2 linked regions of the Homo sapiens genome follow. The protein of the gene in region 1 purifies or fractionates together with the protein of each later gene. This does not show direct contact. Each region holds a gene or a part of one and is shown in the gene's direction. Other genes may lie near its edges. The genes, in order: SEMA4D and PTPRC.

Region 1 (15,280 bases):
TTCCCTTAACAGCCCCTTGCATAAGGAAGAAGGTTGGGTGATGTGCACACCTGAGTATCCACCTGGTGCTTTGCTCCCTGCCCAGGCCTTCCGTAGCCAGGGCTCACTGACCAGATCCTCCAGCTGCCCCGCAGCCCCGCAGCCGTGGCTGCCATGCTCCTGTCTTGCAGACCAGGAAACCATCCTATCAACAGTATCAGTGTTGGGGGCAAGCCAGTGCCCCTTGAGATGGGGAGGGTGCTGCAGGGCCAGAGCTCCTGGCAGGCGTGCACAGTGCTCAGAATGCTGTCAGAGCAGCACTGGCCAGGGGACTCGAGCCCTCCCCTGCCATCGGGAAGCCAAGGATCAGACTTGCCTTGACCTTGACTTATTACCCAGCACTGAGGGTTTGCAGCAGGATCAGTGAGCAGATTCAGCGATGCACAGAGCAGCCACCTCCACCCCCGACAAGTTTCTACAAGTCTTAGGCACACTGCTGTCATCCCCTCTGATCCCTTTTTTTTCCCCATACTTGTTTGAACTCCTGGACTAGGGTGGTTTGAGCTTAGGCCCCACAGCTCCTGCCTACCACGCAGGCACACATGAACCCTTCACCTGCTGCCCGTGACCTGAAAGCCACATGAGACCCCTGACGAAAAATGTGCTAGAAATTATTCTTTGCTAAAACATCAAGGAGGAAAATGAAGTCCTTTTATCAAAAAGAGAATTTGGGCTCCTGTAATCACACAGCAGAGATGAAGGGGGAACATTTTCCCTGTGTCCAAAATAAGTAAGGCTGCTTCTATTTCATATTCTTCTGCACTCAGGTTTTGTGGTTTCAGTATTTCTCTCCAGACCACACACAGTCATGTGTAGTTTATAATTGTGTCTTGGTCATCGGATCCCTGAAAAGCGTTTATAAAGAACTTAGGTTCAAAGCACTTTAGCAGATACTTTGGGTAGAAAGGAAGTGAAGGATCTATTCCTTTAAAGGGAGGAAGGTTCACACATTTGCCCAAGACAGGCTGCAGGGCCGGTGGCTGTCCCCTGGAAGGAGGCTGCCGCCACTTGCCCCACCCAGAGCATGTTCATTGATGGGCCCTATGTCAGGAAAGTCACACAATGCCAGGGGCCTTGGCAGTTGGAAGTGTGTGAGCACGGCAGCACCTCTGCGGTTGCAGGACTGAATGCTGGGCACAGGCAGGCATGGACGATCAAATGAGCTTTCAGTGAGAGGGCTTTTGTCCGTTTTGTTTTGTGTGTTAACCCAGGAGCGTTCTGGGATCCAAGCTGGAACCTGGACGTGGTGCTGCGGGCCACTCACATAATTGCGGCATCTGTCTCCTGTTGCCCGAGCTTTGTTTCAGTCAGGCACAGCCGCGCTGTGCTGGGCCATGGAGGGGTGCACCTCTGACCTTAGTGCTTGCTCACAGGGGATCCACTCTCGGCCCACCACGTCTTCTTGTTGGGGTTTTAGGGGGACCAGGGCGGCCTGAGGACCTTGCAGAAGAAATGGACCTCCTTCCTGAAAGCCCGACTCATCTGCTCCCGGCCAGACAGCGGCTTGGTCTTCAATGTGCTGCGGGATGTCTTCGTGCTCAGGTCCCCGGGCCTGAAGGTGCCTGTGTTCTATGCACTCTTCACCCCACAGCTGTAAGTGCCCTGGGTGGAGTCCCCCTCCTTGCTCCCTTGATGCCGCCAGGTGGTCCCGTCACCTCTTTCCCCTCCCCAGGAACAACGTGGGGCTGTCGGCAGTGTGCGCCTACAACCTGTCCACAGCCGAGGAGGTCTTCTCCCACGGGAAGTACATGCAGAGCACCACAGTGGAGCAGTCCCACACCAAGTGGGTGCGCTATAATGGCCCGGTACCCAAGCCGCGGCCTGGAGCGGTGAGCTGGGGCACTGGGGGCGGGCCGTGCTTTCCCTTCAAGGCCCAGGGCATGGAATCCAGTACAGGCACTGGGGCCTGCTCATGGGCTGGGTACCTGGCCACGCCAAGGCTCTCTGCATTGGGACAGGGACGGCCGATGAGCACAGCTCATCCTTCTTCCCTTTTGCATGTTACGTAACAGCCATTGCTACACTATTGCACAAACAAGAAGGCTGGGGCAGCTGTTTTGCACAATTAACATTGCATAACAATTAGGTCTGTTTCATTTTCAGTTTCTTACAGAGAAACACATGATTCCTTGGCAAAGGCCTCTGCACTGTCCACTAGTCAACAGGAGTCACATTTTTTCCTCCTAAATATAGTGAACTTTATGTAGAAATTGGGAATTTCCAGGCCGATTCCTTCCCTCACATGGGGAAATGGGTGTGACAGGCATGTGCACAGCCCTCTGTGGGGCTGTGACCTACATGGGGTGTCCTGGCCCTCAGAGTTCACTGCAGCACCAGCTCCCTCCCAAGGGCAGCTGTCCCTGACACCATCATGGCTCCTTCTATGCATAGCTTCGTAAAATGTGTTCACTCATGGTCACAGATTTTGGTTTACACACATCAGGGAGCTAGAACAGGAAAAAAGAATCCCTCAGGCTCTTATGCTATTTTAAATTGTCCTGGTTTTAGCCATGTTTAGCATTCTTTTCATGAGAAAGCTGCAAATCAGTGTTCTGTTTTTTAATTTCAAAAGCTCAATAAGTGTTTTTCACTTACAAATAGATAAAAATTCCTTCCCTGAGTATGTATCGTGAATGCAATTCTGTCTTGCAGATGTGTTTTATAACTGTGTCCTCTGCTGGCTGGGGAGAGGCCACCTTTCCTCATAGTAAAGTTATTCACTGCTACCCTCATTTCAAGGCATGCATTGTGTGGTTTCCAGGTTTTGCAGCCCCCCCTGCGTTGGCTGCTTGTGTGGAAGCACCCGTTGCGTGGTGGGACACGAGCACGTTAACAGCGGGGATTTTCTCCCTGCAGTGCATCGACAGCGAGGCACGGGCCGCCAACTACACCAGCTCCTTGAATTTGCCAGACAAGACGCTGCAGTTCGTTAAAGACCACCCTTTGATGGATGACTCGGTAACCCCAATAGACAACAGGCCCAGGTTAATCAAGAAAGATGTGAACTACACCCAGATCGTGGTGGACCGGACCCAGGCCCTGGATGGGACTGTCTATGATGTCATGTTTGTCAGCACAGGTGGGTTCCGAGGGCTTGGCAGGCTTGACAGTGACAGCACATCTGTGTCCTCTGGTAGGAAAACTGGGAAATCCAATTATTCTTTCGTGAGTAGTTCCATTGCCTCCCTCGAGGTGACCTGGGAGGTTTGTGGGAGCGTAAGAAGATTTCTGAGAAGTCACCACACCAGGTGGCTTTCAGATCTGGGACCACCAGGCTACTGGAGGTACTTGTTAAAAATAAAAATGCAAGTCCTGGCCTGTGGCTGGGCTGGGCTGGGGCAGAGGAGTACTGGCCGCCGAGGAGTTGGGGCAGTGCCCACGCAGGGGGCAGGTGTGAGCCACCTGGGAGGAGGCGTCAGCCTGGCGTTTCCTGACTGCTGGCAGAGGACCACGTCCCTGCTTCCTGGCCGAGGAGCCAGGTTTTAGATGTGCCCTGGCATGTGGACTCTGAAATAAGCACTTCTGGAACAGGGACAGGGGCCAGGAGCCACGGTGGCTGGCAGCGCATTGTGGCCTGCCCTTGGAGCCTCCCAGCCAACCTCACATGCCCCCTGTCCTCACCGCCTGCCTAGGGCACTTACCAGTGACACCCCGAGGGCTGGTGGAGCATGGGAGCCCCCTCATGTGGCACTTAGCCTCAAGTGTAATGTCGACTGTTGGTGAGGATTCTTGGGGTCAACCATGGAACAGTTTATTTTCCTTGGAAAAAAACTGGAATAACCCATAACACTTGGGTTTCCAGTTGTCTGTTTTGCCAAAGCCTTTTCCTTTTTTTGTTTCTAATGCGAAATCATCATTGTTTTCTAAGTATCTGTGGAGGGAATGACTTGAGAGTGAAGAGTGTGAAGTTTGCCGCTGTGGTCACTGTCCTTGGTTTCTGTGTCTGGGTTAGTGTCACTGACCTGTAGCTTTGGCCCTGCAGACCGGGGAGCTCTGCACAAAGCCATCAGCCTCGAGCACGCTGTTCACATCATCGAGGAGACCCAGCTCTTCCAGGACTTTGAGCCAGTCCAGACCCTGCTGCTGTCTTCAAAGAAGGTAAAGTGACGCAGGCAGCTGGACCGGGGGCTTCTCCGCTCGGTGGCTTTGATTCTAGGTGACAGGAGAGTTGGCAAGCTGGAGTCGGGCTCCTGGGCAGGCCCCTCTGTCTGTCTGCCCTGGGTGAGCCAACCTTCAGAGTTTGACACAGAGCCATTCCGTGAGCTGTGGGATCTGAATTGGGGAAGGCAGGAAGGCAGACCTGGGGAGACGGGACTTTCTCTTCGAAGTTGCTGGAATGTCATTGAGTTGTTGGTGCAGCTTTACAGGCTGTGGAGAGGTGGGCACTGCTCCATGAAGACACCTTTTTATGCCCTGAGCTTGGGGGGTGTGCAGACTGCATCTGTGGGATATGATAGTGATACAGCTGACTCGTCACCGTGGAAAATCCACAAGAGAAGTGGTTCGTCTCATCTGTAAAGCTGTCTCCACCTGTGGCTGAGACTCTGGTCTGGCCTGCAATACTCCCAAGCAGCCCTTGGCAGGGGTGGGTGGGCGGGCATCCACGCTGGCCTTTAGGGGGCTGCCTCCCTGGCCCTGGCTCCTAACGGGACCTCCAACCACCTTGTGGGATCCAGGCCCAGTCAGTCCTCTCCTCCCTCAGCTGGGAGCAACAGGCAGAGGAAGAGGGCCCCTGTCTGGCCGGGTAAGATACCTACCCTTGGCAGGTGCGTATTTGCAAACACCCCTCCAGGTCTTCTGTCCTCTTCCCTCCCCTGTATCCACAAAGCTTGGGAGCCTGGGTCCTTTTACGTGGTCACCTCCCCTCTGCTAATGGAGAGTTCTCCCTCAGATCTGAAAGGAAAAGAGAATGAAATAGCCTGAGCAAGTTATAAGCCACTGGGTACTGGCATCTGTTCACCAGCCTCTCGGTCTCCAGGACACAAAGGGAGCCCTGGAGATTTGAAGGGTCGACGCTTTAGCCACTGTGGGGCCTCACCCCAGCCTCGTTGTTGAAAGAAGGGGACCCAGAAGCTCTTCTGGGGCCATCGTGCTGTTCAGTGGCCTCAGCCAGACTGGGCAGGCACCTACAACATCTCTAAAATGTGGACTTCTCATTAGAATGAAGATTGGGCCCCTGGTGTGGACATTCGTGAGAATGACACTCTGTTCCAAGGGTCACTTAGGGACCCAGGCTGGTGGAGGCTTCCAGGGCACATGGGCACTGATCCTCAAAGGCAGAAGGGGGTAGGAAGAGGAGGGCCGCACAGAGGGGGTTACGGGTCAGTGCCCACCCGCCATCTCCCAGAACTCGGTCACATGGCCACACCAGGGCAGCTGGCCACACAGGGAGCCTCGCGCCCAGGAGGAGGAGCCAGTGGGTTTGGGGAAGCGCTTGCTGGTCCTACTGGACCACCCGACCCGCCTGTCTCTGTAGGAGCCTCCATTCGTGGGGACGTGGCTTAGTTGCCTGGACAAGCGGAAATACATCCTGCCTGCCGTGGGGTCCTGTGCCTTCTCCTTGGGCCTCAGTAGGCTCCAGGTGGGGGTGGAAGGCCCAGCTCCATGGCCATGGCAGCAGGAAGTGGCTGTTCAGTGGTAAAAAGACTGTGCCGCCTGACCCCATCAGGCTCTCTCACGGTGATCAGCAAATGGAGAAACGGCCAGTACCACGCCCTCCCCCTGTCCTACAGCTGGGGAGGTGCGCTGTGCCTCCACCCTCACCTCCTCTCCCCTGATGACAAGCATGGGGTTTTGCTTTTTATTTTGGTAAATACACATCAGATGAAATTTGCCGTCTTAACCATTTTTCATTGTGCACGTCAGTGGCATTAAGAACATTCACGTTGTTTTGCAGCCATTACCACTGTCTGTCTGCAGGGTGCTTTTCATCTTCCCAAACAGAAGCTTTTTACCTGTGAAATACAAACTCTTCATTTTCCCCTCCTCCAGCCCTGGGCAGCCGCCATTCTGCTTTCTGTTTCTGTCTGGGTACCTCATATGAGTGGAATCACACAGTATTTATCCATTTGTAACTGGCTTATTTCACTTAACATAAAGTCCTCAAGGTTCCTCCCTGCTGTAGCAGGGGTCAGGGTTTTCCAAGGCTACATACTCCTCTGTCGTATGTGAATACCGCATTTTGTGAGTCCCGCATTTTGTGTGTGCGTTCATCCCTTGATGGACACGGTTGCTCCCACCTTCTGGCTTCTGTGAACAGTGCTGCTGTGAACGTGGGTGTGCAGATACCTCAAGTCCTTGCTTTCCATTCCTTGGGCGCACACAGCAGATGCGGTTTGCTCGGCCCTCTCTGAGCCCACCGAGTAGGCTGTGTCTGTATTTTCACCAGGACTCCTTGGGATGCTGAGCTACAGCTAGCGTGGCAGAGGGCAAGGAAGGCACTTAGACAGCTCAGTTGCCTCTGATCACGTCCACCGTCACTCCAACCTGCCCTCGGGGTCTGACGCGCACACACAGCAGCAGAGACAGAGATGGGAGCATGAGAGCTGCCTGCAAGGGGACAATCCTCAGGCCCAGGGAAGGCGGAGACAGGGGGCGTCGAGGGGCAGGAGTGCACAGGACAGGCTTGCTCTCAGCGGGCCTCACTCATGCTGCCAGGTGCCTGGTCAGGCTTTTTTTCTTTGCCTTTAAAAATTTTGTCTTGAAATAATTTTAAATTTACAGAAGAGTTTTGATGATTGCACAGAAGGATCTTGAGCGCCCCCACCTAGCTCCACATGTCCGATGTCTCACATAGCCAGTGTGCATTTATCTGAGCCAAGGTGCTGTCATGGTGCAGTGCGTTACCTGAACCCCAGACCCTGGACCCTCCTACCTCCCGCCCACCACATTCCTGGCTCAGCACCTCAGGTTGCACTGGACACTGCATCTCCTCGGCTTCTGCTCTGTTCCTGCCTCCCTGACCTCAGCACTCCTGGAGAGGAGTAGTCTGGTGTTTTGTGGTGTGTCTGGTGTATTCTTGTGATTATCTTGGGGTCGTGGTTTTAGGGGGAGCACCAAAGAGGGCGCTTTCTGGGGATGGGGCATCTGTATGACTCGCACCAGCGTGATGACCTTGGTCATTCTGTCCAAGTCACCACCGTCTTTTTCCATGTCGAGTGTGTCGGGGCATGTAGTCCACACTGGGGGTGGGGGAGAGTGAGCCCCACCTCCCAGGGGAGTCATGTGGGAAACCCCCACAGTCATTCATGCTTATTTGCAGGGACAGACTTGGAGGCTACAGAAATGCCCTGTTCTCCCACCCACTGACATCCACATCGACCAGTGGGTCCTGCCTGCAGCAGTTACAGCTGGCTGTCCTGACGACCAGTTCCTCCTTCCCTGTCCCCTCTTCCCTTCCACAGTCATCCCTTGGTCTCTGTGTGGCGTCGTTTAGTTTTTACAGCTTAGTTTCATTTGGGCTGCAGCCCAGCCCCATCCGGGAGAAGCGGAAGCTGGGGCTGAGTCTCCCGCAGGGTGCAGGAGGTGGTCTGGATCCCCTTGGGACAGGCCTTGCCCCCCAGAGCCCACCCCACCCTCCACAGCTACCCTCAAGCCTCTCTTTGGGGTGAGGAGTCAGGCGGGCCCCACTTGGCCACCCAGGGCACCCTGCTCTGCACTGCATGGTGTTCACGCCACCTCGCAGGTGCCCCCCGCGGGACCCAACAGGACCAGCTGTCCCTTGGAAGTTACCCAGCTTGGCTTTGCTGCCAGAGAATGTTTCCGCCACCTCCACAAGCCGCGCGATGCCCGAACTGTGATCTGGGATGTCATCCTCAATCCTTCCCACAAACGTGGCTCACACATGGCCTCATCTGCCCAGGTCTCTGCTGCTGCTGCTGCTGTGAGGCCAGCGGCGGGCCAGGTTCCCTCTGCTGTGTATTATCACAGTTTCCATCCTTGGGGGCTTTCCCTTTCTCTCGTGGGTCTGTGTCCGCACAGCTGGATGTGTGGCCTGGGGCTTCCTGTATTGGCATCAGGGCCTGTGATCTTCCAACCACACTCTGAAGTTGACTCCGAGCGTATCCTCTGAGGATGAAGGTCGTGTTTCATCTGACTGTAAACCACTAAGTCATGTGTAAATTTGGGAATCTTGTATTGTTAACCAAAAGGTGTCCCCAGGCTGTTGAGGCAGATGCCCTGGGCAGAGGCTAGAGAGCGCGCTCCACGGGCCACCTCCAGGTCTGTTGCACGCCCCCGAGCTTCAGGTGGGTGCACTGCATGTGGGGCACCCTCCTTCCAGCTGAGTTCCGTTCAAAAGCAGTCAGCAGCCCTGGATGCCTGTGTGCTGGGCACTGCTGGTGCCAGGTGGGCTGATGGGATGGACCTGAAGCTGGTGTCACTGGGAACCAAGTGTCCCAGAAGGTGGGAGAGTCTCACCTGCCCTCTGCTGTGGGTGTGGCTGCTCTGGAGCTCGGAGGTTGACTTCCCGTCTGTGAGCTCTTCCCTTTTACATATAGATAAGTGAAAAGCAAAAGGCATTGTTCCTTTTTTATGTTTTGTATCACGATCTCCTCATCCTTTGCATGTCGTCCGTTTGGCATCCCTGTTATGTTAGGCCTCTGCTGGATCCAGACCCTCACGAGAGGCTCCCCGCCCACAGGTGCTCACATTCTGGCTCGGGGGACGAGGTTGGGCTTCGAGGTGGTGTGCTTCAGCCTCTGGCTGCAGCCCCTTCTCACCTATAGTGAGGCCGGGAAGATGACCGGGAGTGCCAGGCTCATGCATCCTCTGCTGCAGGGAGGAGATCTGGAGGTGGGGACTGAACAGCCTCCCCACTGGCTAAGAGAAACACGTGCAGAGAAGCGCTTTGCTGGAGGGCAGGCACCTGTGGGTGCCCAGACAGGGGAGAGAGGGATTTGGACCTAAGGCCCAGTGAGCCCTGACATAGCACGTGGATTCTGCAGGAAGGTCACAGACCTGCCTTGTTTGCCTCTGGTTCTGAGTACCTCTCCTCCTTACTGCAATGTCCCCTGAAGGTACACTCTGGCTGCTTCCCACACACTGGTGCAGAAGCAGAGGCCATGCTCCTGGATGCCTGCTTGCCTGATGCTAGTTCTTCTCTGTCTCATACACGCAGGGCAACAGGTTTGTCTATGCTGGCTCTAACTCGGGCGTGGTCCAGGCCCCGCTGGCCTTCTGTGGGAAGCACGGCACCTGCGAGGACTGTGTGCTGGCGCGGGACCCCTACTGCGCCTGGAGCCCGCCCACAGCGACCTGCGTGGCTCTGCACCAGACCGAGAGCCCCAGCAGGTATGGGGCGGGATGCGCTGCCTGGGGATGTCCCCCATGTGTGTGGGTGAATAACACGTGCCGGTTGTTTTGCAGGGGTTTGATTCAGGAGATGAGCGGCGATGCTTCTGTGTGCCCGGGTGAGTGACTCCTCGACGTCCCATTTCCTTTGGGAGTGGCGAGGTCTTGTAGCCATTTCACGGTGCTTCAGTTCTGTGGCATTTGTGTGTGTTTTGTTTTTCTTTCTCCACTCGGAACAGAGGTCAAGTGTTCTGTAGCAGACTCGTGGTCTTCTCTGTCTTTTTTTCTTGCCGAAAGAGTACTTGAAGCCACTTAGAGTGTATCTGCTTACTGGGAAGCAGTCTCCTTCCAAAACCATCCTGTTTTCTTTCTGCTTAGCTTGGGGCTCATTAAGCAAAACCTAAGCCTGTTATAAATGGGGAGAAAGGAGCCCATGAGTGATTAATCCTCAGGCAGTGTAAGGGCTGGGGTGGTGTTTCCCCTGGGGCTCCCACCTGGGATTCACCCGCCTGTGGATGTCTGAAATAGCACCACACCCAGAGGGAGGGGTGGCATCAGGCCAGATGCCCCTTCCCCAGCAGCCACCTTCCAGGGTGCTAAAGGCAGACTTGACCCTCAGTTCTGTGTCTTCCTGACCCTGACAAGACAGCTGTCATCAGACTAAGAAAGGTTTAGGCAGCTGGGCATGGTGGTACACGCCTGTAGTCCCAGCTACTAGGGAGGCTGAGGCAGGAGGATTGCTTGTGCCCAGGGGTTCAAGGCTCAGTGAGCTTATCATGCCACTGCACTCCAGCCTGGGGTGACAAAGTGAGACCCAGACTCTAAAAAGAAAACAAAAGCTGGCCGGGCACAGTGGCTCATGCCTGTAATCCCAGCATTTTGGGAGTCTGAGGCAAGAGGATCACTTGAGCTCAGGAGTTCGAGACTACCCTGGGCAACGTGGTGAGACCCTGTCTCTACAAAAAATACAAAAATTAGCCAGGCCTGGAGGTGGTCACCTGTAGTCCCAGCTACTCTGGAGACTGAGGTGGGAAGATCCCTTGAGCTGGGGGGGTTGAAGCTGCAGTGAGCTGTGATTGCACCACTGCACTCCAGCCTGGGCAACAGAGCCAGACCCTGTTTCAAAAAAAAGAAAAAAAAGAAAAGTTTAGGCAGGAGGAGAGTGCTGAGATGCACTGAAAGGCCAGTCTTCCTTGCAGCCATTAGCAGAAGCGTCTCGTGTCTGATTCAAAGAGCTGACACTAGGCACAGAACTGGCCTCTGCTCAGCTTCCCCAGCCTGACGCGTTTTCTTCTGGGACACGGGTGAGAAATGGGATTTCTGCTGCTCAGAGCTGCCTCCAATTTCTTTGTCCCCATGGGCTGTCATCCAGGGCTCATCTTTGCTTTTTGGTCACGCATGTCTTTATCTCCTTAGTTGTTCTGGAAGATTCCATGTTGCTACAGTGGGTGAAACTCTTGCGTCATCTTGTGGGTATTTTAAAGAAGTTGTTAAATAGCAAATGGGGATTGTTGACGCTGTGCACGTTTATTTTGATGTTCCAGATAAAAGTAAAGGAAGTTACCGGCAGCATTTTTTCAAGCACGGTGGCACAGCGGAACTGAAATGCTCCCAAAAATCCAACCTGGCCCGGGTCTTTTGGAAGTTCCAGAATGGCGTGTTGAAGGCCGAGAGCCCCAAGTACGGTCTTATGGGCAGAAAAAACTTGCTCATCTTCAACTTGTCAGAAGGAGACAGTGGGGTGTACCAGTGCCTGTCAGAGGAGAGGGTTAAGAACAAAACGGTCTTCCAAGTGGTCGCCAAGCACGTCCTGGAAGTGAAGGTGGTTCCAAAGCCCGTAGTGGCCCCCACCTTGTCAGTTGTTCAGACAGAAGGTAGTAGGATTGCCACCAAAGTGTTGGTGGCATCCACCCAAGGGTCTTCTCCCCCAACCCCAGCCGTGCAGGCCACCTCCTCCGGGGCCATCACCCTTCCTCCCAAGCCTGCGCCCACCGGCACATCCTGCGAACCAAAGATCGTCATCAACACGGTCCCCCAGCTCCACTCGGAGAAAACCATGTATCTTAAGTCCAGCGACAACCGCCTCCTCATGTCCCTCTTCCTCTTCTTCTTTGTTCTCTTCCTCTGCCTCTTTTTCTACAACTGCTATAAGGGATACCTGCCCAGACAGTGCTTGAAATTCCGCTCGGCCCTACTAATTGGGAAGAAGAAGCCCAAGTCAGATTTCTGTGACCGTGAGCAGAGCCTGAAGGAGACGTTAGTAGAGCCAGGGAGCTTCTCCCAGCAGAATGGGGAGCACCCCAAGCCAGCCCTGGACACCGGCTATGAGACCGAGCAAGACACCATCACCAGCAAAGTCCCCACGGATAGGGAGGACTCACAGAGGATCGACGACCTTTCTGCCAGGGACAAGCCCTTTGACGTCAAGTGTGAGCTGAAGTTCGCTGACTCAGACGCAGATGGAGACTGAGGCCGGCTGTGCATCCCCGCTGGTGCCTCGGCTGCGACGTGTCCAGGCGTGGAGAGTTTTGTGTTTCTCCTGTTCAGTATCCGAGTCTCGTGCAGTGCTGCGTAGGTTAGCCCGCATCGTGCAGACAACCTCAGTCCTCTTGTCTATTTTCTCTTGGGTTGAGCCTGTGACTTGGTTTCTCTTTGTCCTTTTGGAAAAATGACAAGCATTGCATCCCAGTCTTGTGTTCCGAAGTCAGTCGGAGTACTTGAAGAAGGCCCACGGGCGGCACGGAGTTCCTGAGCCCTTTCTGTAGTGGGGGAAAGGTGGCTGGACCTCTGTTGGCTGAGAAGAGCATCCCTTCAGCTTCCCCTCCCCGTAGCAGCCACTAAAAGATTATTTAATTCCAGATTGGAAATGACATTTTAGTTTATCAGATTGGTAACTTATCGCCTGTTGTCCAGATTGGCACGAACCTTTTCTTCCACTTAATTATTTTTTTAGGATTTTGCTTTGATTGTGTTTATGTCATGGGTCATTTTTTTTTAGTTACAGAAGCAGTTGTGTTAATATTTAGAAGAAGATGTATATCTTCCAGATTTTGTTATATATTTGGCATAAAATACGGCTTACGTTGCTTAAGATTCTCAGGGATAAACTTCCTTTTGCTAAATGCATTCTTTCTGCTTTTAGAAATGTAGACATAAACACTCCCCGGAGCCCACTCACCTTTTTTCTTTTTCTTTTTTTTTTTTTAACTTTATTCCTTGAGGGAAGCATTGTTTTTGGAGAGATTTTCTTTCTGTACTTCGTTTTACTTTTCTTTTTTTTTAACTTTTACTCTCTCGAAGAAGAGGACCTTCCCACATCCACGAGGTGGGTTTTGAGCAAGGGAAGGTAGCCTGGATGAGCTGAGTGGAGCCAGGCTGGCCCAGAGCTGAGATGGGAGTGCGGTACAATCTGGAGCCCACAGCTGTCGGTCAGAACCTCCTGTGAGACAGATGGAACCTTCACAAGGGCGCCTTTGGTTCTCTGAACATCTCCTTTCTCTTCTTGCTTCAATTGCTTACCCACTGCCTGCCCAGACTTTCTATCCAGCCTCACTGAGCTGCCCACTACTGGAAGGGAACTGGGCCTCGGTGGCCGGGGCCGCGAGCTGTGACCACAGCACCCTCAAGCATACGGCGCTGTTCCTGCCACTGTCCTGAAGATGTGAATGGGTGGTACGATTTCAACACTGGTTAATTTCACACTCCATCTCCCCGCTTTGTAAATACCCATCGGGAAGAGACTTTTTTTCCATGGTGAAGAGCAATAAACTCTGGATGTTTGTGCGCGTGTGTGGACAGTCTTATCTTCCAGCATGATAGGATTTGACCATTTTGGTGTAAACATTTGTGTTTTATAAGATTTACCTTGTTTTTATTTTTCTACTTTGAATTGTATACATTTGGAAAGTACCCAAATAAATGAGAAGCTTCTATCCTTGATTTGGGGAAGACATTCCTTAGCGGAGGCTGTGCAGCCTCCCGCCCCTGCATGGCCCAGGCGGGACAGCTGGGCTCGCTCTTTTCTGTCCGTTTCCTGCTGTGTTTTGCCCTCTCTGGCCTGTGACGTGCTCCTGGCGACTTCTTCCTCAGTGCCCTCTCTTTTCTGTCCTCTCTGTCTCACAGCCTCGTCTCCTAAGCCCCTCCCTCCTCCTGGCTCCTCTTCCCTGTCCTGTCTGGGCCATGTGGGGGACAGGAGGCTTTCCTCTCCCTGGACCCCCTGGCCAGCCTCGGGTGCGGGGCCCGACAGCAGCTCGAGGGTCTCCTTGCTGCCGCCCTTCCTGAGTGACCAGGCACAGCACGTGCACGCCCTGGGGAACTTCTACCTCTTCTGCCAGGCCACAGGTGAGTTGGGCCCTCTCTGTCCCCTGTGCCCTGTCCATCTGTCTCCTCCCACAGGTGGGGGGCGGGCGGGGGCATCCTCCACATCCCTCCACATGTTCCTTTACCTTCCTTATCTGTCCTGGCTGCGTCCCTCGGGTTGAGCCGTTTCACGCTTTCATTGTGGGTCCATCCCGAGGGAAACTGTAGACAGTGTGAAGCCACTTCTAGTGTACAGGGGTCAACCAGTGTTTTCTGTAAAGGGCTAGATATTTAGGCCTTGTGGGCTGCAGGCTGTGTCACAGCCACTAAGCTCTGCTGTTGTATTGTAAAACCAGCCATAGTCAATACACAACGAGTGGTCAGGGCTGTGTGCCAGTAAAACTTTATTTATAAAAATGCACGGTGGGCCAGATTTGCCCCAAAGGCCCCAGTTTCCCAACCTGTGGTATATAGGATTGCTTCTCCCTTAAAAAAAAAAAAAATTTCAAGAGACAGGGTCTCCCTCTGTCACCAAGGCTGGAGTGCAGTGACACAATCATAGCTCACTGCAGCCCCTGCCTCCTGGGCTTAAGCCATCCTCCTGCCTCAGCCTCCAGAGCCAGAGTGCTTCTATTTCTGCTAACAATTTGGAGGTTGATATACGTGGTATTTGGAAATTTTAAAAAATTAAGAGCTTCCAGAATGGGAGTTGTTTTAATGACTTGCTTCGTGGTATTTAAAAGCGGAAAAGATTGGCGGGCATAATCCCCCTGCTTTGGGAGGCCAAGGCAGGAGGATTGCTTGAAGCCAGGAGTTTCACAGCAGCTTGAGCAACATAGCGAGACCTGATCTCTACCCAAAAATGTGAAAAAAACTAACCAGGCTTGGTGGCACGTGCCTTGAGGATTGTTTGAGCCCAGGAGTTTGAGGTTACAGTAAGGTATGATGGTGCCACTGCACTCCAGCCTAGATCACAGAACAAGACCCTGTCTCAAAAATCATCATCATTATAAAAACAGAAAAGATTGAGAGTCTAGTGTACTCCTCTGGGACCTGGAGGCATTTGCCCTGGATTGGAAAATACTCGGATGGGATATCTGCTCTTGAAAGATAGTAGATGTCCAGAACCACACTTCAAAGATGTATCCTGTGCTTCAGGCAGTGCGTGGTAGCCCTGGTGGCCCCTGTGTTGTCATCTGACTGATCAGTAGATACAGAAAGAAAGGAAGTGGCCTGTTAGAGCCTGCCCCGGGGGAGGGATGAAGTTAATGAAGAGGAAAAGCAAACCCAATTGCTCTCTTTTTAAACATGTTAAACACACTGTCAGTAGCTCCTGAGAGTTTTAAGGTGCTGCCCTCTCCTGTTAAACAAGCTCTGAGAGCCCCAGGTGGCCCATGTCTGCTGAGGCCAGAATGTCCCTTGGCAGCCAGCACTGGACAGGAGAAGCTGCCGGTGAGCATGGAGCACTGTGGAGACGGAGCTTTGCTAGGCTGGCTTGTGTGGTTCCTGCCCTCCACTGGGTGCTACGGACCAAGGCTGTGCTGAGCCCCCTGTGGCCGCTCTCACAGCTGAATGGTGCTCCTCGGCCAGCTAGTTTGCCTTGGTGCAGGCATCCCAGAGGACTTCATGTCTCCATGGAGACTGTGTCCTG
Region 2 (15,280 bases), on another chromosome or scaffold:
CTAGAGGCTGAATTCCAGGTAATGATAGTGACAACAATAATAATAATTACAGATAACTTTTATTCAGTGTCATCTACTTTCTAGGTGTTTGCTATGCACTTGACATAGTGCTTGCATTTAGTCTTCACCAGAACCAAAGGAGCACAGATGAGAAAACTAGGACACAGTGAGTTAAGAGAAATGCCTGAATCTACACAACTATTACATAGGAGATTTCTTTAGACCCAGAAATCTGATTCTATTGCTAATACTTTTAGCCATTCCTCATTAAGCTGGTATAAAATGAAGTGTCAAAATAATAGTATATAGCCACAAAACTGGTCTGCCAAAGGCAATACAGCATATCACCTTTAAAAATCGTATCTGGTTTTGGTTTGTAAAGGAAATCATTAGAAGAGTTTATGACTGCTTAGGAAGTTGAACTGGCTGGAGCTGGTAGACACACAGTAAAGGATAAGTACATGTGTCTTAACCTATTTATTAGGCAATTATTCTCACAGCTAACCTAGCATGTAGTTCACTATAATTTCAGAGAGTTTGCATAGCTGTCCTCAAATTGCTCAGTTGTCAAAAAAATGTTTTGTGTTTTTTTTGTTCCACCTATGATTTCCAGGTTACTGAGTCATTCCATAATCTACCAAACTGGTAAATTCAGAGTTTCTAAAGACCAGGAGTGTGCTTTTAATCACATGCAGAACCATTTAATGTTTAGGATCAAAGTGGGGTTAAGGTGGGGGTGGAGGTGGAGCATGCAATAATGACCAAGTGACTCAATCCCCCAGAAGACCTGTACTTATAATGGAAGAACTAGCAGACACAGGGTAGTCTCAAACAGAGTAGTGTTTTATTGTTGTTTTCTTGCTTTTCTAGCTGATAAATTAACCTTATTCAATATACCTGCCCTACTAATCCACATAAACACATAAGCTGTTAGAGACAGTTATACATTTAAGTTAAACATTCTTATGAATGTTTATTTACTATAGAAAAGACAGACAATTTTTTTCACTAAATAAATGTGCTTGAGTTTCTGCTATGTGCCAAGTACAATTCTAGGCACAAGAGTCAAAATGATCTGCAAGTGGACATGGGAAGAAGGATGAGAGGATGTGATCCAGATCACAGATGGAAGCTGTGAAATTATTCCATTTAAGCAGACAGTAAGACAGAAGATGAGAGTAGAAATGCAAGTCGGTTGGTAAATTTGGTATTGGGAAGTTGAGGCAGCTCTTGCCTGATGATCTTTCATTTTTCAAGAAAATGTGAGGCTAGGTCATCAGTTGAGAGTTGAGAGATACAAGGGCGAGTAGGGCAAAGAAGAGCTCAATGCTTGAAGGGTATAAACTAGTTACCTCAAAGTATAAAAACAATCTCCCTAGGCAGAGGCAGTAAGATTGCCAGAAGTTATCATTTGATCACCTGAAATTTATGATTATAAGTTTAAAGAGGAATTAGTCAGTTGGTTGTATTGTTTTCTATGGCAGCATTGAGCTCTTTGGGGGTAGAGGCTGTGTATGCAGATAGTTGAGTTAAACCTATCTAGGTTTTGAAAAGTGACTATTTGAAAATAGTGAGGCAAACGAGTTGAGGGTGTTTACAAATGAATGATGACTGAGGTGGAAAATAAAAAGCAAATTGGCCACATGAGGGAGGTGAGAGAAAGTAGTAAGGATAATAAGTTGGAGACTTTGATAGAATTACAGATTGCTAGGTTGAACATATCAGAATAAATGACTAGGAATAATAGGGGTAATTTTCAATAGCACAGATAGTTGAACTTATGATTTTAGAGGTGATGTAATATTTGGAATGAAACCTACAAAGGTGGAATGATGAAAGTGGATGACTGGGAAGTGGAGGGAAAGTCATGGGAGGTGAAGAAGCTAAGAAATGAAGAGACTAGAGTCTTGGATAGATTATTCTTGTCAATGTTGAATTAACCAAAAATGATGACAGACCTTGGAAAGAAGAGAATATACTTAGCCAAGCCTAAAACTAAATGAGGTGGAGTGATTCAGAAATCAATACCTGACACTTCCCAGTGAAGCCGGTGGATAGAAGCTAGTATAGTATGATGGCAGGAATATCAAAGTGCTTGGTTGATTTGAAAGCAAATGAGTAGAAATGGTTTGCAAGTAGAATCAGGGATCAAGGAGAACACGTATCTTTTCTTGAAGCTGTGAGGTAAATGGGGTGTGAGGAGGAAAGTCAACTTTTTCTTAAAAGGGCTGCTGAGTTATTGGTGGTGTCCTTAGCTGACATCCAGGTTTTAATTGGTGGAAAGAAAAAAAAAAGGGTGAAGTGACTGTTGGGAGAAGATGATTAAGATAAATGGGAGTTCACAGATGACAGACGATGGGCATCAGAGGGCAGGGAGGAAGGCACTGATGGGTTAGATGTAAGAGACTGGGTTGTATCTGAGGATACAAATAACCATTCAGGAATAAAAATCTGGGGAATGTGGATGCACTGGGAAGCTTAGACTTGTGATGGCAAGTGAAACAGGTAGAGATTTAAGAGTGACAGATCCTTTGTGTCTTAGATGAAGGTGAGCCATTAATTCCACCTATAATCCTGAGTATTGCTACAGGGCATAGGCTGCCTCGGTGACTACACTCACAAGAGCACAAGGTGTTGTAACAGTTTCCAAAACATCTGGTCCTTCATGCAGCTCATGGTGGTGTTCAAGTGGCCTAAAATTCAGTGATGATATTTTCTTTCACTCAATTACGTAGCAAAGAATGAGGTTTGAAACAGGGTGCCATAATTAGTTTGAATGAGGGTACTATGCTGAAAAAATATATGTCTATATACACACACGTATCTACATGCGTGTGTGTGTATATAAAATCTTACCGAATTGTACATGAGGAGCCTTCTCAGTTTCAGTTATTTGTAACATTATCTATTATCATTAAATATTATTCACTTGACAAATACTTATTTAAGGACTAGTGGAAAGACTGTAGGCAGGGGTGTCTTCCAGAAGAAATTGGTATTTAAACTGATACCTAGAGGGTAAGAAAAGTTATTAGAGCAACCAAAAGGGGAAAGGGTAGTTCAAGCAAGAAAAAAAAAAAAAAGTGTTTATGTGCCAAGAGTTGAAGAACAGCTTGGCCCTTCCAAGAATTGAGGAAGCTGGTTTGGTAGAAGTATTGAGGGACCCAGTAAGGTGTAAGGCTGGAGAAACAGTCAGGGGCGTATCAATAAAGACTTTTTATGCTATTTTGAGGAGGTTTGTTGTCCTCTTATAGTGATGGAAAGCTGTTCATCTTCAGAAGAGCATCTTCTGTTTTGTGTTTTAGAAGGATTAGAGCAGGCGAGATTGAAGACAAAGAGGCCAGTTAGGAAATTGTTGATGTTTTACAAGCGAGAAATGAAGGCAGACTGGATTAAGTAGGAAGAAAGAAAACTAAAAGGATTTGTGTATAGAAATGATGGATCTTTTCTGACTAATTAGGAACTGTGGGTGAGAGGAAAGCAATCTGGAAGGTGTAAACAAATTAAGAATGAACTTTCAAAACATGTGCCAAGTCTCCTAAGAATGTGTTGTCTCCAAAGTTTATTTCTGATCATTTAAAATAACTTACCATTGCTTTTGCAATATAGATCAACATCGGTCTAGTGGTTTCAATTTATATAAGAACAAACTATATTATTTTTCTATCAAGCAGCTCTGAAGAAGGAGACATAGTCTGTTACATATATATCTTTAGTGCATACTAGCCCTGTCAAAAGGACTAAATGCCTGAGCAATTTAAAGAAAAAAAATCAGAGGCAAACCGAAAAATTATGGCCTATAGGGAGCATATGCAAATTTCACAAAAATTAATGAAATGCTTTTCCTTAGGGAGCATCTTATGATGCAATAAGCCAATATTTACATTTTAAAGGAGTTTTTCTGTTTTTTTTTTTTTTTTCAGAGACTTCCTTCATATAGGAGCTGGAGGACACAGCACATTGGAAATCAAGAAGAAAATAAAAGTAAAAACAGGAATTCTAATGTCATCCCATGTATGTAGTTTATTTTTTTATTTTTTGTATCAGATAAAGTTAAGCTCTTTTGGATTTGTTTAATGTGGGACACACAGTCATATAAATTATCTTGAAGCAAGTTTTCAACATTTGGTTGTTAATAGGGAAGAAGTTACTAGGTATTAAAATACTAGTTATTGCAAGAACTTATAATCCTGAACATTTACAATGGGCTTTGGAGGGTAGACTGTATTCAGTGTTTTCTTTTTACCAATTATTTCAGAAATGGGTTGTCATAAAAGAGAAATATATAAAGCTGGGAGAAAAAAGAGCAAGTCTCTTTTACCCATTTTCTTTCATTTTTAGTTTATTTCAGTTATTTACTCCAGGGTAATTGACAAATAGTAAAAATTACATCCATTTGTTCTCTATATGTTTCCTTTTTATCCCTTATAACTGGGAGGTTGAAAGTAAGGGGAAAATACTCTATAAATTCTAAATCTTCAAATTTAACAGATCAAAATATGCACAGTTTCAATACTTGAATTCTACTATTTAAGCATATTAAAATGATCACATATGGTAATTTTATTCAGCTGCATAAACTAAAATTAGCATGGATAAAATATAACACAAGTTGATAAATTAGATGACCAAATAAATCAGATCAGTGCATGGTTGACCTAGTTAATTTTCATAGGAGTCCTTATGAATGTAGTTTAAAATATGGAATTGATGGTGATATGGTTAATCAAATCATTTGACCAAGTTATTATAAATTATAGAAATTAAGAAACAGTGAGAAATTATAGGTCAAATAATTTTCTGGGCTAAATAATTAATCAAAGCTACCCATATAAGATTGTTAATTTAATATTACTGGAGTATAATTGAGGGAAAAAATCTACGCTATGTATTTTGTAAACTTATATCAAGCAGAATTATAATAGTCCATGGGAAATTAAAGTATATGTATCAAAGATTAAATAATCATATATAATGATATGATATCTCTTTGTTGTTTGACATGGAATTATGTTCCATGTTTTTTCCTGGAATCCTTTTTCTTAGACTTTTGTTGTATAATTTGTTTATCGACAAGTACTGAATTTTATATAGGATCTTATTTCATGTAGATCAGTAAGTTTTCATAATACAATCTGTCCCTTTTTAAATACTTTCAAATTTCCACATGACAATGAAGAAGAAATTTAATTTTTTCAAGGAAGACTTACTACTGATTTATTTCACATAGATGACTATAACAGAGTGCCACTTAAACATGAGCTGGAAATGAGTAAAGAGAGTGAGCATGATTCAGATGAATCCTCTGATGATGACAGTGATTCAGAGGAACCAAGCAAATACATCAATGCATCTTTTATAATGGTAGGTACTTAAATTGCCAAAACCCAAGATCCAAACATTTTAAAATAATATCTATGTTATTAGGGCCATTCATTAAGCGATTTTATAAAAGAATAATGAGCTTGGTCATAACTACATATAGATTGACATGAGAGTTTCAATTTCAATGCTACAATTTAACTTAATGAAAGATTTAAAAATACTATAACCTAATAACCTGAGACAAAATAAGATAATGCTATTGGTTATATTTTATGACAAATATAGCTATAATCACATCAATTTTAAAAATAGTAAAATTTGAGCAAATACAAGTATTTGAAAATGTTTATACATACTCAGATACCCAAATTGTAGGCAATGACAAATTTGTATATTTGTATGGTTAGAAACTTTTCATTCAGATAAACTGAATTATTAGGTGAGTCTGTGTCATATCCCCCCACTTTTTTAATTAACTGAGAATTCAAACAATGAAACTTTAGTCATTTATTAAATATTTATTATTTATACACTGTTGGATTTACTTATTTTCCAAAGTTTCCTAAAGCACACATTCATAGAATATTAGTTTAATTAGGAAATATAATAAGAATGTAAAGACACTAATTAAAATTAGTATAGACACGATGAAGGTAATTTGAAATGCTTAAGTAATTCCTTTTTACAATCACATTAACCTTTATAGAGAAACAAAAATGTGTGTCTTTTGTGGAAAGGAAAATTTGTTTCGCAAGATATGTTGTAATCTTGATTTCACATTATTAGCTAAGAATTACTATTATCTGTATAATTATTTTACATATAGCTATTACATTGTTTCTTGTAAGAAACATAAGAATATTACTATTTGTATGTAACAGCATTGATATCAAACTGACTATATTTCCAAATGGTTACTTTAAGAATCTACTGAGCTCTCTTCTGTAGTAACGAAGTCCCACCCTTTTTTTGTCTAAAAAGAGCTACTGGAAACCTGAAGTGATGATTGCTGCTCAGGGACCACTGAAGGAGACCATTGGTGACTTTTGGCAGATGATCTTCCAAAGAAAAGTCAAAGTTATTGTTATGCTGACAGAACTGAAACATGGAGACCAGGTTTGTACTTTTGAGGATTTTCTTTTAAGCCTTTCTGTCATAAAACGTCATTCTCTAGTCTTGGATTGCTTGCTTCATCGCCATACCCACGTCTTTTTTTATCCCTCCATCACATAATTCTGTCTGCTCAGTCTTACCCCTTTCACCCTGGTGTTGGCCTCCATCAGCTGTGTCTGGATTCTGACAGTCTCTCCTGTTTGTCCCCTCCAGTCTTGCATGCTGCTCACAGATTAGCCAGGATGCAGCAATGTCAGCGTCACAGCAAATAACAGCTACATTTTCACGCTGTTTTCCTCATTTTCTCAAGATAAAAGCCAAGATCTTTTTGTGATATCCAGCACCCTGGACAATCACCCCCTCATGTGTCTTTCATCTTCCTCCCATTTTTATGTTTTCCATCCTCTCCACTCTGGACAAGCAGGTTTCATGCCCAAGCCTAAACACGCCATTTGCATTGTCATCACTGAGTCTAAACTTATTGATATTCCATGTAACTAAATGTGTGCTGTCTTCCAGTTTTGACCCTATTCTTTTAACAAGACCAAACTCCTGAAAAATGTATCTATATCATCCTTTCTTTATTCCCATATAATATTTATTGCCATAAAAGTCTATAGTTGAAGGTGAATCTAAGCTATAATTTGATTTTTTTACTTAATGCTTGTGACAGATATTTTATCCTTTTCTTAATGTCTTCAGTTATTATTAAAATTTCCCTGGTGGTAGATCTCACTCAGCTTTAGCACCAACCACATTATCTGACATATGTTCAAGCCTATTCAGTGAATAACCTTATAAGTATGCAAAAGATTTATGCTTTTTTATGCCCCTCTCTCTCCCCTAAATCTCACTCTTTCTCACCCTCACCTGGTCCCCTTCCCCTGTACATGGAAAGTTGCTTTTTATGTTTTTTGTTTTAAAGGAATATAAGTCCAGATTTCTAGCATGGAATTCCCACAATCCTTTCCTTCATATAAATTGTGAAAGCTGGGAAACAGGATGGAAGTACCGGCAGGACTCCCTGTCTTTGTCAGAAATTGTGGGGTTGTAGTTGGTAGACAACAGTTTGTAGTAAGAAGAAACACTTTTGTGGTTCATCTACTCTTCAATCTGGCCCTTTCCTTAGCTATGTAGACAAAATATATAAAGCTGCTTATGGTGTTGGTCAACAAGATGACAGAGACAAAGCTCCAAAAGATGCAGCCTCCTTCCTCAAGAACCACTGAAGGGACAGTGGGACCTGAGTTATTGAAAGGGTCATGAATAACATTGACTCATGCCAGCCATAAATATTGAAGAGGTCATGATAAGCATGTGGAAAAGAGGAGCAAACCTCAAAGACCTACACTAAGGAAAACAGCTGTTCCGGGGGTGTCCCAGTCACCTCGATTGTGCTCAGCTTCCCTTTTCTTACACAAGGAAACACCACATATTTATTAAATGGGTCGCCAGCACTTAAATAGATTCTGGATTTTTATAAGTAGGTTTCAATTTTAGAACACAATAATTTTCATTTAATAGAAAAGAGGCACAGACAGAGAAAGAAAGGGAGAAAGAGGGAGACTGATCCTTTGCATATTTCAAATAGGAAACAAATTGTTGAATTGTCTTCTTTTATCTAGGAAATCTGTGCTCAGTACTGGGGAGAAGGAAAGCAAACATATGGAGATATTGAAGTTGACCTGAAAGACACAGACAAATCTTCAACTTATACCCTTCGTGTCTTTGAACTGAGACATTCCAAGGTATGGAAACAATTTGGGGAGTATATTTCTTTGATATAATGGATCTGGTAGCAAAATGAATATAAATTACTCTATGCAGGCAAGGCCATCATATAAATAATGTTTCAGAATAACATTTTAAAATTATTTAAATAGAAGTAACTGTGAAGAAAATATGACTATCAAATTAGAAAATAAGCTGAACTTCACTCCAGTTAATGCTCTCTTCAATTCTGATTTTAGAGGAAAGACTCTCGAACTGTGTACCAGTACCAATATACAAACTGGAGTGTGGAGCAGCTTCCTGCAGAACCCAAGGAATTAATCTCTATGATTCAGGTCGTCAAACAAAAACTTCCCCAGAAGAATTCCTCTGAAGGGAACAAGCATCACAAGAGTACACCTCTACTCATTCACTGCAGGTGCGTGGGATTTGGTAGAATGTGCTCTCAAAATCATAATGCTTGACTTCTCGGTTCACATGTTGTCTTATCTAGTTATCCTCATATATGAAACACATAACCACAGTAAAAACTTCTTATGGAGTCGGTCACTCTCTTGGTTGTTTCCACAACACAACTATTGTAGAAATATAATAGAAGTGATTATATTATAGTGCAATAATTTTAAGTTGTGTTTTTTAATACTTGGTGTCATGTCATCTTTGATTCCTTGGTAGCTAACATTGAGCCAGGAATGTCATTTGTGTGAATGAATTAATGAATGGAAGGGTGTGTGAACAGATAGGTAGATGGGTATCACCTTACACATATACCCATATACATTGATCTACTCTATTAGGTGTCACAAAGACACCTAATATGTTTAATGAACACAAAGTTTATTAAACATATTTTAAGTTAAATATTAACTGAAATCACAAAGCTTAGCAATTTTGATTTGAAACTCATTATTTAATTTTCTAAACTGAACCAAAGGCAAAGATTGTGGTAATATCAATAATACTACTAGATTTTATTAGTTTCTTCATCTGTGATAGGTGCTTACATATTCACCTTAAATAAGCAATATAATTGAAAGAAAGATATATAATATAAAAGTTTACATGAAAAAGAATATTGAAGTAAATGAGAAACGAAAAATAGTAAAGTAAAATGAGAAATGTTTATCTAGTGAAAAACTTTTGGAATTTTTGAAAAAGTCTAATTGTTATTATTGGAATTGCATATACTAGAATCAAGCCTTAAGAAATATATGAATTTTCAGCATTTATGTGGAAAGAAAGCTGAGGAAGGGAAGTTTACACTGTAAAACTATATATGTTTCTTAGAATATGATTTATGTACAATAACTAAAGTGTCCTGCTGATAACATATTGTTTAAATTGAATCTTTATGATAATGCTTTATACTTCTCATTGTTTGGTAAACTATTTGATTGCCCTCTTTTTAGTGAATAATTCTACTAGGTATTACTTTTCTACTGATGCAGAAGTGAAAACATTTGTGAAACGTGGTAGAGAGGCAGAAGAGTGAAGAAGAGCATGTGTTCTAGTAATTTACAAAATATTAGGTCTAATATTTCTGATTACATCAGCTTTCTCTTCTCCAAATCTTGGTTTCCTTATCTATCATACTGGCATTCTGATATTGGTTTCAACAACTTCAGATGTAAATAAAAATGCATTAAAATCCATAAAATACTAAATAAAAGAAAATATATTTGTAAAGTCGAAGACAAATAAGTTTTCAATTCCAGGATTATCACACTCTTAAATTGAAAAATTTGCCTAAAAATGCATTTAGCGTAAATAATTTGGTTCTTGAAAGAGGTTGGAATAAGATAATTATGATAAACATGAAGCAAAAAATATATTCTCTCTCTTCCTGTTTTTATTCTAATATCACCCTTTTTGGTGAGAAGTAGGATTATTTTCTATCTTTTCTTTCTTTTATAGGGATGGATCTCAGCAAACGGGAATATTTTGTGCTTTGTTAAATCTCTTAGAAAGTGCGGAAACAGAAGAGGTAGTGGATATTTTTCAAGTGGTAAAAGCTCTACGCAAAGCTAGGCCAGGCATGGTTTCCACATTCGTAAGTATCCTTCACCATTGCTTTTAACATGCTCGGAATTTTTTTTTTCTTTTTGACGGTTTCCTTTTTTCTTTTCTCCTCTCCTTTCCTCTCGTTTGTTCTTTTTTCCCCTTTCCTTTTCTCTTCTCTATTTTCTTTCCTATTCTTTTAGCTTTTCTACTTTTACATGATAATTCACATTAAATTATTATAAGTCTAAATAAGAGCCTAAAGTTTACTAGCACTTTGTTGTGACAGTTCATGAAGAGCCTTTCCCTAAATGCTCATGAATTTCTTAATTTTCTTTCCTTCACTCCTGTATCGATTTGTGTTGTGTAACAAACCACCCCCAAATTTGGGAGCCTAAACAAATAACATTTATTATGGTTCAGTAGTCTAATGATATGCTGGAATGTTCTGCTGGTGCCCTCAGGCTCAGGCAATAGAGACCAGGCTGACTCATGTGTCTGCCTTCAGCTGATGTGTGCCCTACAGTTTGGCTGGTCTAAAGTGACCTACACTGCCAGTAGGCTGGCATGTGGCTGCCATTTAGCTATGGCAACAACAGTGAGTGGGCCACATGTCCCTCCTCATCCAGAAGACTAGCCCAGGCCTATTCACATTAAAGCAGCAAGTTCCACAAGGGAAAGAAGACTTGTGTGAGACCACTTGAGGCCCAGGCTTAAAAGTGACACACATGTCTTCTTCTGTATGTTATTAGCCAAATAAATAAGTCATAAAGCCTGCCCAGATTCAAGGGGTAGGGAAATAGACTCCACTTCTTGAGAGGGCCTGCAAATTCACATTGCAAAGAAATGTGGATACAGGAAGGAAAATAAGTTTTATATTCTTGTAATCGATCTATCGTGTATACCCTCTATGTGGTAGTAACTGTAGATGGTCATCTGGGAATTAATCCTTATTCACAGTGTAAACTTAATTACTCACTAAAATATATAAAGCTTTTAATCATGTATGATATTGAGATTTCATATCTTGGTACTTAAAAATGTATCAAATGCTTGCTATGTGCTCTTGCTATAAAGAGCTAATTGGTATGAGGGAAAGCCAGGTATTTACTAATCAATGTAGTGAGTAAAATGACAGAAAAATTATAAGAAGAACATGAATGAGGGCATTTAATTTAAACTTTAGGAATCAAGAAACGCTTCTCGAAGCAGTGATTCCTGCCCTGATTCTTAAATAATGTGTAGGCATTAGACAGGAGGATAAGTACAAAACGTGGCATCATGAGCAAAGGCATGGAAATGGCCCATGAGCGGAGTGAACACTGGTTTGGGGTTGCTCCAAGGTAAAGTTCAAAAAGTATCCTGCAGTCAACCCTTTAGCACCATAAAGAAACTAAATTATTTAGATGTTTTTATGAGAACATATCAAAAAGTACTTTTCTGTCATCCAATACTTCCACAAATAAATCATTAGTTCTTGCTAATCTTCATCTGGCATAAAAATAATGACATCAACTTTCTTCATGTAATTTCCCACTTAATTCCTTTACTAGGAGCAATATCAATTCCTATATGACGTCATTGCCAGCACCTACCCTGCTCAGAATGGACAAGTAAAGAAAAACAACCATCAAGAAGATAAAATTGAATTTGATAATGAAGTGGACAAAGTAAAGCAGGATGCTAATTGTGTTAATCCACTTGGTGCCCCAGAAAAGCTCCCTGAAGCAAAGGAACAGGCTGAAGGTTCTGAACCCACGAGTGGCACTGAGGGGCCAGAACATTCTGTCAATGGTCCTGCAAGTCCAGCTTTAAATCAAGGTTCATAGGAAAAGACATAAATGAGGAAACTCCAAACCTCCTGTTAGCTGTTATTTCTATTTTTGTAGAAGTAGGAAGTGAAAATAGGTATACAGTGGATTAATTAAATGCAGCGAACCAATATTTGTAGAAGGGTTATATTTTACTACTGTGGAAAAATATTTAAGATAGTTTTGCCAGAACAGTTTGTACAGACGTATGCTTATTTTAAAATTTTATCTCTTATTCAGTAAAAAACAACTTCTTTGTAATCGTTATGTGTGTATATGTATGTGTGTATGGGTGTGTGTTTGTGTGAGAGACAGAGAAAGAGAGAGAATTCTTTCAAGTGAATCTAAAAGCTTTTGCTTTTCCTTTGTTTTTATGAAGAAAAAATACATTTTATATTAGAAGTGTTAACTTAGCTTGAAGGATCTGTTTTTAAAAATCATAAACTGTGTGCAGACTCAATAAAATCATGTACATTTCTGAAATGACCTCAAGATGTCCTCCTTGTTCTACTCATATATATCTATCTTATATAGTTTACTATTTTACTTCTAGAGATAGTACATAAAGGTGGTATGTGTGTGTATGCTACTACAAAAAAGTTGTTAACTAAATTAACATTGGGAAATCTTATATTCCATATATTAGCATTTAGTCCAATGTCTTTTTAAGCTTATTTAATTAAAAAATTTCCAGTGAGCTTATCATGCTGTCTTTACATGGGGTTTTCAATTTTGCATGCTCGATTATTCCCTGTACAATATTTAAAATTTATTGCTTGATACTTTTGACAACAAATTAGGTTTTGTACAATTGAACTTAAATAAATGTCATTAAAATAAATAAATGCAATATGTATTAATATTCATTGTATAAAAATAGAAGAATACAAACATATTTGTTAAATATTTACATATGAAATTTAATATAGCTATTTTTATGGAATTTTTCATTGATATGAAAAATATGATATTGCATATGCATAGTTCCCATGTTAAATCCCATTCATAACTTTCATTAAAGCATTTACTTTGAATTTCTCCAATGCTTAGAATGTTTTTACCAGGAATGGATGTCGCTAATCATAATAAAATTCAACCATTATTTTTTTCTTGTTTATAATACATTGTGTTATATGTTCAAATATGAAATGTGTATGCACCTATTGAAATATGTTTAATGCATTTATTAACATTTGCAGGACACTTTTACAGGCCCCAATTATCCAATAGTCTAATAATTGTTTAAGATCTAGAAAAAAAAAATCAAGAATAGTGGTATTTTTCATGAAGTAATAAAAACTCGTTTTGGTGAATTCTGTAATAGCTTATCATGAAGGTCAAACACAACCTTTAGATTGGTTTGGTTTTCTATATCTTTACTCTTTTGTCTGATTTTATATGTCTTAACTATACAGCACCGATTATTGTCCATTCAACTCACATTTATTTTGTGTCCCTACTTCTAATTATTTCACTATTGTAACATATAAAATTAACAATTAACCCTTATAGTAGTATATAGATCCTTGTGCTTATTTAACAGATGAAAAGAAGTAAATTTTACAATGAAGCCACAGTTTCTAATTTATATTAAGGTTACTTATTACATCTTTACTTATTAATGAGAAAAGGGGATTAGAATCACCAATTATGGGCACAAAAAATAAAGTTTGCTTTCACTTACCTCTTCAGTCACTCAAACTATTATGCATTCTTTTCTTTTATTGAAACTTGATCAGTTGCCATTTTCTAGATAATGTAGTTAAAATTTGCAGTTCTCATGTTCAATAGAACATTATGATGTATGCCTACTTTATCTGTTAATTGCTTCAAAATACAAATAGCAGAAAGTCTAAATAATCTACAAGCAAAGTTTTTCTTCAGAAGTTTCAATTGCAAGTAACATCTTCCAAATGTAGTTGTGTGTTTTAAATGTGTTTTCCACCTGACACTATCTTTTGAAAGATTAAAAACTACTTAGAAAATAGAGCAATAATAATTTCTATTAGTTTAAGAATCAAGCTTGAGACTTTTTTTCTACATATGGGAATTTGTTGTAAAGAAAGAGATGAAATAGTGGCTCAGAAAGCCCACTACTTTGTGAGAACATATACTAAACCGAAGGTGAGACCCATGGCACTAGAACATGGAATTATATGTCTATGATTTTTACCTGTAGAAAGAAATAATATGTGAATTATAGGTCTATGTCTATGGCCATGGGTTGCATTAATGGGGATCTGTTACAAGGTATAAAAGATTTATTTGCTAAAGTTTGGCACTGCCATTATTAATTCTAGGATCCAGTCAGAAATATTAAGCAAAAAGTTTTGACTTACAAAAGCCTGGTACACTGTAGGGATAATGTTATGAATCCAGAACATTACATTTATTGGGCAAAAAGAAACTTCTAGGTTTCTTTTAAAGTTGTTTGCTTTATTCCTGGTATTAGAATTCAATGGGAATAAAAGATACATTTAGTAAGCCTAAACTTCAGGTCCCAAGCTATTAATTGTGTACATAAGTGACAAATAAATATTTTCATTTAAGAGATATATATATTTTAATATTTTCTTGCAAGAGGAAAACTGTGTAAAGTGATTAGCTGAACATCTGTCTTTGCAAAGATAATTTTAAATGCGTTAAGCTTCCCCTCAGAATTCTTATATTTGTACAGAGAAATTTTCCTGTTTTTTTCCCTCTAAAATATTAAACATAAAATTTATTTTTACAACTAACTAGGACTGATCTTAATTTTAGATTTATACCAGATATTGGTTATAAGATGATTTCATAACACCATATTAGATCTGAATAAGTGAATGCTATTTGCTCCTAGCTAATTGCAGCATGTTTCTTGATATGAAGACCTTAAAATATATCACTTCAAAGGAAATGAATATCTGTTAAAATGAGTAGAAAAGGCTATGCTTTCAATCTCCTACACAAATTTTACATCTGGAATGATCTGAAGGTTCTTCAAAGACATTCAAAATTAGGCTTTTTTATGTCCTGTTTTAAGTGAAAATATTTATTCTTCTAAGGGTCCATTTTATTTGTATTCATTCTTTTGTAAACCTCTTTACATTTCTCTTTACATTTTATTCTTTGCCCAAATCAAAAGTGATTCCTAAATTTTAATTATATTTGTAGGACAATTAAAAGCTTTTGATAACTTACAACAAATGAATTCTTGTTTTTTGCTAAGATCCCGTAAAGAAAACTCTTCTTCTTTATTCAAACTATCCATGATTACTTTCTTCAAAATGACATGAAATTTGATTGTCAGATAAAATACAAGG

The links.
Region 2: the proteins of SEMA4D (region 1) and PTPRC purify together in Homo sapiens (affinity purification with western blotting; 2 studies listed by BioGRID and IntAct, with this or other methods). This does not show direct contact.

Annotation. Positions count from the first base shown.
Region 1 is NC_000009.12:89,375,224-89,390,503, reverse strand, and holds the end of SEMA4D (semaphorin-4D isoform 1 precursor), read left to right. Parts: intron 1-1,456; coding exon 1,457-1,632; intron 1,633-1,711; coding exon 1,712-1,868; intron 1,869-2,895; coding exon 2,896-3,118; intron 3,119-4,021; coding exon 4,022-4,137; intron 4,138-4,398; coding exon of another isoform or gene 4,399-4,557; exon of another isoform or gene 4,558-9,076; intron 9,077-9,157; coding exon 9,158-9,330; intron 9,331-9,405; coding exon 9,406-9,449; intron 9,450-10,874; coding exon 10,875-11,800; 3' UTR 11,801-13,269; downstream 13,270-15,280. UniProt on the Homo sapiens protein: Cell surface receptor for PLXNB1 and PLXNB2 that plays an important role in cell-cell signaling. Regulates GABAergic synapse development. Promotes the development of inhibitory synapses in a PLXNB1-dependent manner.
Region 2 is NC_000001.11:198,744,186-198,759,465, forward strand, and holds the end of PTPRC (receptor-type tyrosine-protein phosphatase C isoform 1 precursor), read left to right. Parts: coding exon 1-18; intron 19-3,923; coding exon 3,924-4,014; intron 4,015-5,230; coding exon 5,231-5,364; intron 5,365-6,306; coding exon 6,307-6,441; intron 6,442-8,063; coding exon 8,064-8,186; intron 8,187-8,408; coding exon 8,409-8,587; intron 8,588-10,083; coding exon 10,084-10,219; intron 10,220-11,720; coding exon 11,721-11,996; 3' UTR 11,997-13,291; downstream 13,292-15,280. UniProt on the Homo sapiens protein: Protein tyrosine-protein phosphatase required for T-cell activation through the antigen receptor. Acts as a positive regulator of T-cell coactivation upon binding to DPP4.